3 linked regions of the Homo sapiens genome follow. The protein of the gene in region 2 purifies or fractionates together with the protein of the main gene of each other region. This does not show direct contact. Each region holds a gene or a part of one and is shown on either strand. Other genes may lie near its edges.

Region 1 (3,335 bases), on a different chromosome or scaffold from region 2:
CTGATGGGGTCACACCAAGGCCATGTCGGGGTGCCTTCTTGAGCAGGCCTGGGCTCAGCTTCCTCTGCGAGCCCCTGGGGAGGGGTGGAGGTGGAAGGGGATGAGGACACTTCCTGCTTGGGTTCTGCTTGGAGAGCAGAAGTTGGGGGAGCCTGGGGCCGAGAGGAAGCTTGATCCCCTCCCCAGCTGAATCCCCCACTGGGGCTGGGGGAGGTCAAGAAAGGAGGGCTGCCGGTCCAGGCAGAAGTGTGGGTTCCAGCCTCGGGACCTCAGCCCCTCTCTCCTGCGGATGAGTGGAGGGTAGCAGTGAGGGAGGCCCCAGAGCGGGACGGACCCATTCCTTTGTTCTAAGTGGAGGCTGCACCCTCCCCTTCCCCAGGATGGTGGAGAGAGAAGGGGACTGGTTGTGGATGGTTTGAGTCTGGTGCCAGGGTCTGGGCTGCTGGGCGGCAGGGCTGAGTGTCCAGGGGTGCCTCCAGCTAGCCCACCTGGGGCAGAGGCCATAGCCTTACCTGCCCCTGCATCCACGTTCTTCCTCCAGCCCTCCCTTTAGGCCCTGCTCCTGGGCGTCCACGTGGGAGCATCGAGCTGCACAGGGCCCAGTGTGTGCCTGGCCTCCCTCGCTGCTATCTGTGTGGAGCACTCACTGTCTGCCCAGTACTTTCTGTATGTGTAGAGTCCTCCTTGAGACAGTCCTGTGAGGTAGAGTCTTTTCCTTGCTATGAGGAAACTGACGCTCAGAGAAGTTAACAGAAGTCAAGGTGCAAACTTGTTCAGGTCACCAAGTTCACAGGCCACAGACTCATCTTCAGAACTCAGTGGCCTTAGTGGCACCCTCCCTCCCCTGAAACACTGCTCCTGCCTCTGCTCTCCTCCCAGGTGGCATCGAAGGCTGGCATCTACGAGATCCTTAACGAGCTGGGCTTCCCCGAGCTGGAGAGCGGGGAGGACCAGCCCTTCTCCAGGCTGCGCTACCGGTGGCAGGAGCAGAGCTGCAGCCTCGAGCCCTCTGCCCCCGAGGACTTGCTGTAGGGGGCCTTACTCCCTGTCCCCCCACCCACAGGGCCCCACGCAGGCCTGGGGTGTCTGAGGTGCTCTTGGCTGGGAGCGGCCCTGAGGGGTGCTGGCCTTGAAATGATTCCCCCACTTCCTGGAGAGACTGAGCGGAGTTGGGAGCCTTTTTAGAAAGAACTTTTTATAGGACAGGGAGACAGCACAGCCATCCCTTGCAAACCACCAAGGTGTGTGGCTGACCTCCAGGGAGGAGCACTCACTGGAGTGCTCACAAGGTGCACACTGCTGTGTGTACCTTGCAGACAGGCCGGCGTTCAGCCTCCAAGGGGCTCACTCCCCCAGTTGCCAAACACTGTGGATCTCTCTGTCCTCTTCTCCCCTCTCTCAGATTGGCCTGGCAGCCCCTGGCACAGAGCAGACCCGGCCACTGGTAGCTCCCCACTTCCTTACTCCTGCTGCTCTGCCATTGCCGCTCCCCTTGTTGCTGCCCAAGCACTGCCCTCGGGCGTCTGGCAGCCTGAGGTGGGTGGAGGGGACAGTGTTCTGGATAGATCTATTATGTGAAAGGCAGCTTCACCCAGTTTTCTGGACTCTCATGCCCCCATCTCCGACCTGGGAGACTTCAGGAATGACAACCTACCCAGCCTGGTGGGGCTGGCAGGATGGTGGAGGTTTCTCAAGGAGCTGGAGACTTCAGGGAGCCCCTCTCATGGGGAGGAAAGAGCTTCCAGGGGGCGAACGCAGCACAGAGGAAGAGGCCTGCTCCACTTGTCTGGGAACCTGGGCAGGAGGCACAGAGGAAGCCAAGGCCTGGAGCTGCAGGTCCCCCGGCATCTCTCTCTGTCCCGGCAGCCCAGGATGGCCTGGTGCCCCCACCTGCTGCAGCAGGAGCCCCAAGGAGTGCTAGCTGAGGGTGGTTGCTGGGGTGGTCCTCATGGACAGTGAGGTGTGCAAGGGTGCACTGAGGGTGGTGGGAGGGGATCACCTGGGTTCCAGGCCATCCTTGCTGAGCATCTTTGAGCCTGCCTTCCGGTGGGAGCAGAAAAGGCCAGACCCTGCTGAGTTAGAGGCTGCTGGGATCCACTGTTTCCACACAGCGGGAAGGCTGCTGGGAACAGGTGGCAGAGAAGTGCCATGTTTGCGTTGAGCCTTGCAGCTCTTCCAGCTGGGGACTGGTGCTTGCTGAAACCCAGGAGCTGAACAGTGAGGAGGCTGTCCACCTTGCTTGGCTCACTGGGACCAGGAAAGCCTGTCTTTGGTTAGGCTCGTGTACTTCTGCAGGAAAAAAAAAAAAGGATGTGTCATTGGTCATGATATTTGAAAAGGGGAGGAGGCCGAAGTTGTTCCCATTTATCCAGTATTGGAAAATATTTGACCCCCTTGGCTGAATTCTTTTGCAGAACTACTGTGTGTCTGTTCACTACCTTTTCAGGTTTATTGTTTTTATTTTTGCATGAATTAAGACGTTTTAATTTCTTTGCAGACAAGGTCTAGATGCGGAGTCAGAGATGGGACTGAATGGGGAGGGATCCTTTGTGTTCTCATGGTTGGCTCTGACTTTCAGCTGTGTTGGGACCACTGGCTGATCACATCACCTCTCTGCCTCAGTTTCCCCATCTGTAAAATGGGAGAATAATACTTGCCTACCTACCTCACAGGGGTGTTGTGAGGATTCATTTGTGATTTTTTTTTTTTTTGTACAGAGCTTTTAAGCATTAAAAACAGCTAAATGTGAGTGCACCTGGCTGCTAATATGTCTTTAGTGTCAGACAGACGTTCTAGAACTGGTACAACAGGCTGAGGTCCCTGCCCCTTCAGAGTAAGGGTGGGCAGGCAGAGTGAGTTGAGAGCACCTGTTCTTGGCACTTCCAGCTCTAGAGCAGGCGGGTTTTTGCAGACACGCATCCCCAGTTTTGCCTCACCCTCTTACACTGGATGTCAGGCTGAGCTCCTCCTTGAAGAAAGCAACGGAACCAGCGAATTCTCACTAACATATGAAGGATTGCTGCATCTAGGGAAACAGTATAGAGCAAAGTGGAATTGGGGGCCTGTGAAGGAGCCTGGATCTCAGCCTCCACTTTCTCCCCTAACCCCTGTGGGCCCCACCTGACCCCTTTGGGCCTCTGGTTGATTGAACACACCTCACCCCTGGTTGAGTGCTGGCATTTAAAGAGTCAGTGGGGAGGGTGGGGTAGAGACAGCACTGACTCCAGGCCTCTTCCCCCATGCTTGCAGGGTTAGGGGAACAAGGTTGTAGTTCCGAGGTCAGCTGGGGTGGGCAGAATGGAACCCAGAGCCCCCACCGCCCCTAGGGTTGGTGT
Region 2 (3,651 bases):
CCTAGGACAGTAATGCCCTCCTAGATGTTTGAGAAGATGTAAGAAGATGCGTGAGAGCAGATTTTGTCACCTGGGCCACACTAGGGAACTAGCAAGTTTTGTTGTAGGCGTTGTGTTCCTCTGGGGGTGACCCCTAAATCCTGAGCCCTGTCTCCTCAGTGGCCCAGACCCAACCCCTGTATCAGCCTGGGCTCCCAAGGGGGAGTTTCAGGACAGAGGCCCTTGAACCCCAGGTATGCCAGCCAAGACAGGGGCAGGGAAGGGGGTGTCAATGATGCCGAGACACCCCTACTTTCCCTGGGACCATCAGTATCAGGAACACTGATTATAGAATTCACCTTAAAACACTGGCTGGAGTATTCAAACCGTTACTGCAGAATGAGGCTGTCTTCTCTTTTTTTTGTTTGTTTTGTTTTGTTTTGTTTTGTTTTGTTTGGAGACAGAGTCTTACTGTGTCACCCAGGCTGGAGTGCAGTGGTGCTAACTTGGCTCATTGCAACCTCCGCCTCCCAGGTTCAAGTGATTCTCAGCCTCCCAAGCAGTTGGGATTACAGGCACACACCACCATGCCCAGCTAATTTTTGTTTTTGTTTGTTTGTTTGTTTTTTAGTAGAGATGGGGTTTCACAGTGTTGGCCATGGTGGTCTCGAACTTCTGGCCTCAAGTGATCTTCCCGCCTCAGCCTCCCAAAGTGCTGGGATTACAGGCGTGAGCCACTGTGCCTGGCCTGTGTTCTCATTTTGTAGACTATTTTTCCCAGCATTATAAGCCATAGGGCTAGTGGAAGTGAGAGGCAGTGCTGAATGCTGGTGACCAGCATGGGCTCAAATCCCAGCTCTAGCAAGCTTTTTGGTCTTGCACAAGTTACTTCCCTCTGTTCCTCGGTTTCCTCTTTTTGCAATGGGAATAATAGTTGACCTACCTCATCCAGTTGTGAAAATGAAATGAGTTAATATACTCTACATAAACCCTGGGGGCAGCGCTTGGCTTACAGTTAAGTGCCAACTAGGGATTGGCTGCTGTCACCAGACAGGGCTAACCTATGTGTCCTCTTCTTCCCAACCCCCCAGTGCCTAGCCCCTCCTGTAATGGTTTTGACAACACCCTTTCAAGACCTTGCCGGGTGCCACTAGGAAAGGAGGTTTGCTTCATTGCCACCGTTCGTCTGGCAACACCACAATTCTTAAAGGCAAGTACCTGAGAGGCAGTTCATTGTGCGGAGCTGTTATGATTGACTCACATTTTGTTATATGTAATTAATGGTCTTTTGGGAGGGAATAAATTGCAGTGAAGTTGTCACTGGCTTTGAAAATCGAAGTGTCTGGCTTCTGTGCCTGCACACACGCCCTTTCCCCTGCCCCGTTTCCTGCAAGTGGTTCTCTTTGAAGGCAGCATCGCTTGCTGTTCAGCCCGCAGAAGTGCTGTCTGATAACTGTAAATCTTCCCACCTTTCACACCGGCGTTAATACCATGCAGGCCAGGCCTGGGTGAGAACCGAGTGTTGGAGCGCTGGGGGTTTGTCTGCCTTCTCTCATCTGTGATTGCTTCAACATCGATGGCATGAATGTTGAGTTAAATGAGTAATTCAGATTCCGATGAAAAGCCATTTTCCACATGTTTGCCACTTCTCGATAATGGGAAGGGATGGTGTGACATTCTGGCTCCTAGGTATTTTTCCCTAGCTTGTGAAATAAATTTAGTATCAGCTAATACCGAAATTAGCTACAGATGATGAGTTTCAGTCCAACACGACTTGGAGACTTGCTCGAAATGATTTTAACTTCTGTTACCCACCACGCGTTCCTCTTGAACAAACCTAGGGTGAGCATCTGGCACCCAAGCAACTTTTTTTTTTTTTCTGCTTCCAATACAGGAAATGTGCATAGTTGACGAACCTTTAGAGGAATTCACTTCAAGGCATAGCTTGGAATGGAAATTTTTATTTCTGGATCACAGGTTTGAGAAAAGAAAAACATATTTGGGTTGGGCCCTTCTCAAGTCTTGTTTGCGTGAGCCAGGCTCTCCTTGGGAGAGAAGAGTCGGCCCTGGTCCATTGAAAGAGGAGGACTCTCTGGCACTAGGAAAAGTCGTCCCTGCCAAGGGTGGGTGGTTTCCCTCCAACTTCATCTGCCCCATCGTGAATATGTTCTGTGTTTGGGTCTGATGGCTCAGCCCCGGGCCATCTTTGGGATGATCCTCACTTGAGGCCCTTCCCGGCTCCCAGTAAGGCAGCAGCAAGTGTGAGAGAAATCTCTCATCTCATTTTTTTCAACATCCTTTGATCTTTTAGCCCAATCTTTACTGTTTCTTTTGTAACATTATTTGCAGTTGAAGAACTCCAAATCTCCCCTCCCCACCCTTTAATTTATATTACACTTTGGTGTTGGGCTGATCCAATTTGTAGCTGTTTTTAATTACCCAGTAGTGATAAAGCTTATTGTTATTTGGGCCAAGTTATGCCAAGGGAAAGGAGTATCTATATGCCAAAAAAAAAAGCTGAGCCCTTTGGAAAACACAGCCTCTCTGATTTTGACCATTACAAAGTTATTTTTCTCCCCTTGTTCTTGAGAAATGAGGCCTCCATGTTGATCATTATGGAAAGGCATGGCCACCAGGGTGAGCCCTGCAGGGTGTCTCCTCCCTGATGACAAGTCCTCCTTGTCCTTGTGCAGAGCACCTCCAATCATAGGATACCTGCCTTTTGAAGTGCTGGGAACCTCAGGCTATGACTACTACCACATTGATGACCTGGAGCTCCTGGCCAGGTGTCACCAGCACCGTGAGTACCACTGCCCAGCCCAGGCATGGGGGCCTTGCGTTCACTCCACTGGGGCCCAGCAGCAGGGCTCTGGGACTCCAGAAGCCTCTGCTCGTTACCTGGTTTCTTTTTAAGGTGAGGAACTTGGTTTTCTCTGAGATGATCTGGGGGCATGGTGGAGGCCCCTTATCCGCGTCTACCCCCATGTCACTGGAATTCACTTGGCCCCAAACCCTAGCACCTTCCCACTGTCATCCAGATAGGCGCCCTGTTTAAACCTAATTAAGAAATTAAGGTGATGCAGGGATTTTTTTTTTTAAGTTATGCAATACATTTCAGAGATAAAATACCGAATTCTCATAACTGTTCTTTCATCAGCAGATAAGTATTGGTCACTAACCATAGGCCAGATACTGAGTAGGCTGGCATATGGGGATGATCAGTACCTACTTGCTGTCCCGCAGGGCAGGTCTTCTGGGAAAGCCAGAAATGGGTGACTTTGTGGGATGTGGTCGGTGCATTGAAGGGGATGTACACAGCATACTGGGGGACTCAAGAGGACCCTCACAGCTGGGGTTCAGGGAAGGCTCTTTGCCACATACGAGGCGAACACATTAGCAAATGTATGGGGGATGGGACTTACGATGTGGGGGAGTGAGAATTACAAGCTTGTCCGAGTTCTCACTTAGCAAGTGGTTTCAAGAATTAACCACTTACAGCTGTATTTTCAGTGCCAACTCTTAACTTGAAATAGGAACACTGACCTATTGATCCTAATGCATGAATCGACCACTAACATTGTGCTTTAAAAGATGCCTCACCTGTAGTACCCATTAGAACTTTTTTTTTTTTTTTTTTTTTTGAGACAGACAGATTCTCGCTCTGTCACCCAG
Region 3 (3,651 bases), on a different chromosome or scaffold from region 2:
TAAAAATTTGGGATGTGAAGAAAATGGGTAAGATGCTTTCCAATTTTTTGTGGACTTATCATACCCTCAAGACAACTGTATTTAATTCAAAGTTTATCAAGCATAATAATCACTTATCAAAATAAAGGAAAAAAAAAAAAAACAAGATGGCAGCAGAGTTAACTTATACTACATCCCAGGAACCACTGAAACTATCCTTAAGATTTTTAGACATAAAACAGGTTACACTGTTTCAAAAGAAGAGAGAAAAAAAGCCTAAGTTACCAGAATCGTCCAGCTCCTGACCATGAGATATGCCGGCTATGTCTATTTTCTTCAGCTTCTAAGTCAAAAAAGCAATTCATCGACTACAATTCCAGATGTACTGCATTCATTCCATACCTTAAAATTTGGAAGTACTGTTTTTGCCTGCTAGTTTAAGAAAAATCTGACTTGTAATGAAAGTGTAGGAGTCAGATGGTACTACTCTTTCCCTTGATTTTCAAGTGTAAGAAAACAAAGCGTTGAGTGATTAAGTGCTCACACCCAGGTGCAACCTGTGCCCAGGGAATTTTAGGTCTCGCCCAACTAGTACGATGCCTTGTGGGATGCAAACAACCTCCTCTTATTTCTCTCTGTGACTAAGACAGGCAAGGGAAGATCCATGAAGGTTTCCTTGTGTCACCTACTCCCTGGCTCAACAGGTGTTGCTCTGTATGCTCATTCGTGTTACTGTACCCTTGATCCTGGTGAGAGAGTGGGATGATGGGAGGTGACAGCAGGAAGAGCCCCACACAATCATCTCCTGCTTTGCCCCATGATCCATTGAAGCACCTGCAGGCTAAGGAAAAGGGGCTCAAGGGCACTCCCAAACTGAGGTCCTCAGTGGGACGGGGACATATGTATCCTGTGCCCAGACTACGAGTTAAGACAGCAGCCAGGTATTGGCACGTGGCTTCCTAAGTGAACCACAACACAGTTTAAGTTTAGAAGGAAAAGCTCTTACATAAGCTTTGGGAAACAGGAGTAGGTAACAGCAAATGAGCTAAAAGAACCACTCAAGTAACAGGAAAATATGCCTCTGTGCTATATGGCTGGGTGATCAGAGAATGCTTCTAGGTCACTGCCTGTATTACTGGACCCAGGTGTTAAAGATGCCTGCAGCTTGGCCCAAGCCTGAGGGGCCCTGCTCTTGGTGGCTTCTATAAACAGCTGGGTTTGCTCCTTTAGCTGGTCTAGTTCTACCTGAGTTGCCTGATTCTGACGAATCAACTCCTTGGTTTTCAAAGTGATCTCCAGCAAACCAGATTTATGTAGGACTACTAGGGTATTCTGAAAGCGCCTATGTTTGCTCTGCCGCTGCTCTGAAAAGATATCTGGGCTGCGGCAGAGGTGCTCTGCAGCCCATAAAGGTGAGCTATAATTAGCGGACAGTGGTGAAAGGGGAGAGTTGCTCTCTAACCCATGGAGAGTGCTGTCTGATGCGCAGACAGGACTGGCGGGGGAAGCGAAGGTCAGACTGGGAGCTTTAGCCACGTGACTGCTGGATACCGGCTGAAGAGTCTGTGGACTTCCACCTGCCACCAGAGAGGGCACACCCTGCAGAGCTGAGTCCTCGGCAAGTTTGGCGCTGGGTGGTGCTGGCGTCGAGGGACTGGATGGGACAGCACCAGCCTTGGTTGGCTCACTGGAAGACAAGCTAGGCCCAAGTCTCTCAGTACAGATTTTCTTCTGCACTCCACTTGTTCCTTTTTCTTCTGGGCCAAGGGAAAGGCCCCTTTTGCCTGGATGTGGGGCTATTTTGGTGTAAGAATTCAGAATGGGCAAGTAGTTCCTGGAGTCGGACTTTTTCTCACCAGTGTGACATGGACTGACAGGAGATGGTACAGGTGGATGAAGGAATAAGAGCTGTGGCTGTGCTGAGATCACTTCAAAGGAGGGCTGGACAGTCCACGACTGGAGCTGGGATGAGCTGCTGCCCTGAAGACAAAGGAGGAGAGCAGCACACTACTCATTACTGCTGAAAGGATAGAGGAGTGAAGCTTCTGTCAAAGGGGCAAGTGGATACTCAAATGCTTAGAACAATTTCAAGGACAGTGCTTCTCTCACATAGTGGTTTGAACATCTATTTGTGTCTGATATCACAAATACTTTTTAAACTTTTTCTAAGGGAAAACTGGAGGAAATACCTATTTTTATTCAAGTGCTATCACTCAGAAAAATAAATGGGTAGGTAAAGTAATGACATAGCTAAGGTCACAACTGAAACAACAAAAATATGGATTTCCTGGTGTAAGTTAAAATGTGACTTTACACCAAAGTGTATCTTCATTTAGTCACACCTGGAACCTCTTTTACCTGAAAATAACTTTTGATTAAAAAGTAACATATTGGGCCAGGTGTGATGGCTCATGCCTGTAATCCCAGTATTTTGGGAGGCTGAGGGAGGTGGATCACCTGAGGTCAGGAGTTCGAGACCAGCCTGGCCAACGTGTGAAACCCCGTCTCTACTAAAAAATACAAAAAATTAGCTGGGCTTGGTGGTGTGCGCCTGTAGTCCCAGCTACTTGGGAGGCTGAGGCAGGAGAATCGCTTGAACCTGGGAGGTGGAGGTTGCAGTAAGCTGAGATTGCGCCACTGCACTCCAGCCTGAGTGACAGAGCAAGACTTGGTTTCAAAAACAACAACAACAACAAAAAAAAACAGAAAGAAAAGAAAAAAACCCATATTGTCAGGAGTCTATGGGTTCCTGTTTTTAAGGCAGTGACATCCAACAATCATAAAACCATTCAAAATAATAACAGCTACCATGTATTGGTGCTGATTATAGGTTACCACTATGTGTAATGTTTTACATGAGTTACTTAATCTATTTAAAACCCCATGAGGCAGTTACCATTTCCCTTCATAAACAGGGAACTGAGGCTTAGAAAGTCGAAAAAACTTGTTTTAAGTCATCAAGTTACTAAGTGATGCAGTTAGGATTCCATCCTCTGTCTGACTCTAAAACCCATCTGAGCCATTCTGCTATACTGCCTTTGTTTATTACTCCTCAATTATACATTATTTTTTAATTAAAGTATTGATTCAGACGAAATCTAATAAAGAAGGACATGGCTACTTGTCTCCAATGTTTGAAAGCCAATCCAGTTCCAACCTGGTCCCCAAAATCTGAGTATAGATAAAGCCAGGCAGAGGGCAAGCCTGACAGAGTTTCACATCATCAGTGGGGTCAGGTGGGGTCATTTGATTTATCTGAAGAACATTACGAACTGTCTTCCCATACATGTACATGCGCGCACCATTTTGCACACATTTCAGTTTCTTGGATGCAAGGTTAGGAACTTTAGGCCAGTTCATTTCCCATGCAAAGGCTGGAACGATCTAGAGTCCTCTTGATGTTCAAATATACTCCGGAATATACTAAGGCAAGCAATGCTAGGGCCAGAAACCATATTTCCTTGTCATAGGAGATCCAAAATCAAGAGGTCTTTTGAAGTAGAAATCAGCCTGTTCCAGCTCAGTCAGAAGCAAAACTTCATGCCCTCTCTAGGGATGACCTACAAGGCAAATGGATCTGGAAAATATCTAATGCATTGTTTTCCCATGATTTTACTGGACTGTACTTCCTAATGCTACTGTTATGCCCACTCTCCTAACAGATACTTAGCT

Evidence for each region.
Region 1: the proteins of NPAS2 (region 2) and PALD1 purify together in Homo sapiens (affinity purification with mass spectrometry; one large-scale study listed by BioGRID and IntAct). This does not show direct contact.
Region 3: the proteins of NPAS2 (region 2) and CIPC purify together in Homo sapiens (affinity purification with mass spectrometry; one large-scale study listed by BioGRID and IntAct). This does not show direct contact.

The regions. Positions count from the first base shown.
Region 1 is NC_000010.11:70,565,702-70,569,036, forward strand, and holds the end of PALD1 (paladin), read left to right. Parts: intron 1-879; coding exon 880-1,032; 3' UTR 1,033-2,749; downstream 2,750-3,335.
Region 2 is NC_000002.12:100,962,988-100,966,638, forward strand, and holds part of NPAS2 (neuronal PAS domain-containing protein 2), read left to right. Parts: intron 1-1,070; coding exon 1,071-1,189; intron 1,190-1,873; coding exon 1,874-1,956; intron 1,957-2,672; coding exon 2,673-2,779; intron 2,780-3,651. UniProt on the Homo sapiens protein: Transcriptional activator which forms a core component of the circadian clock.
Region 3 is NC_000014.9:77,111,733-77,115,383, reverse strand, and holds part of CIPC (CLOCK-interacting pacemaker), read right to left. Parts: intron 1,960-3,651; coding exon 1,066-1,959; 3' UTR 1-1,065.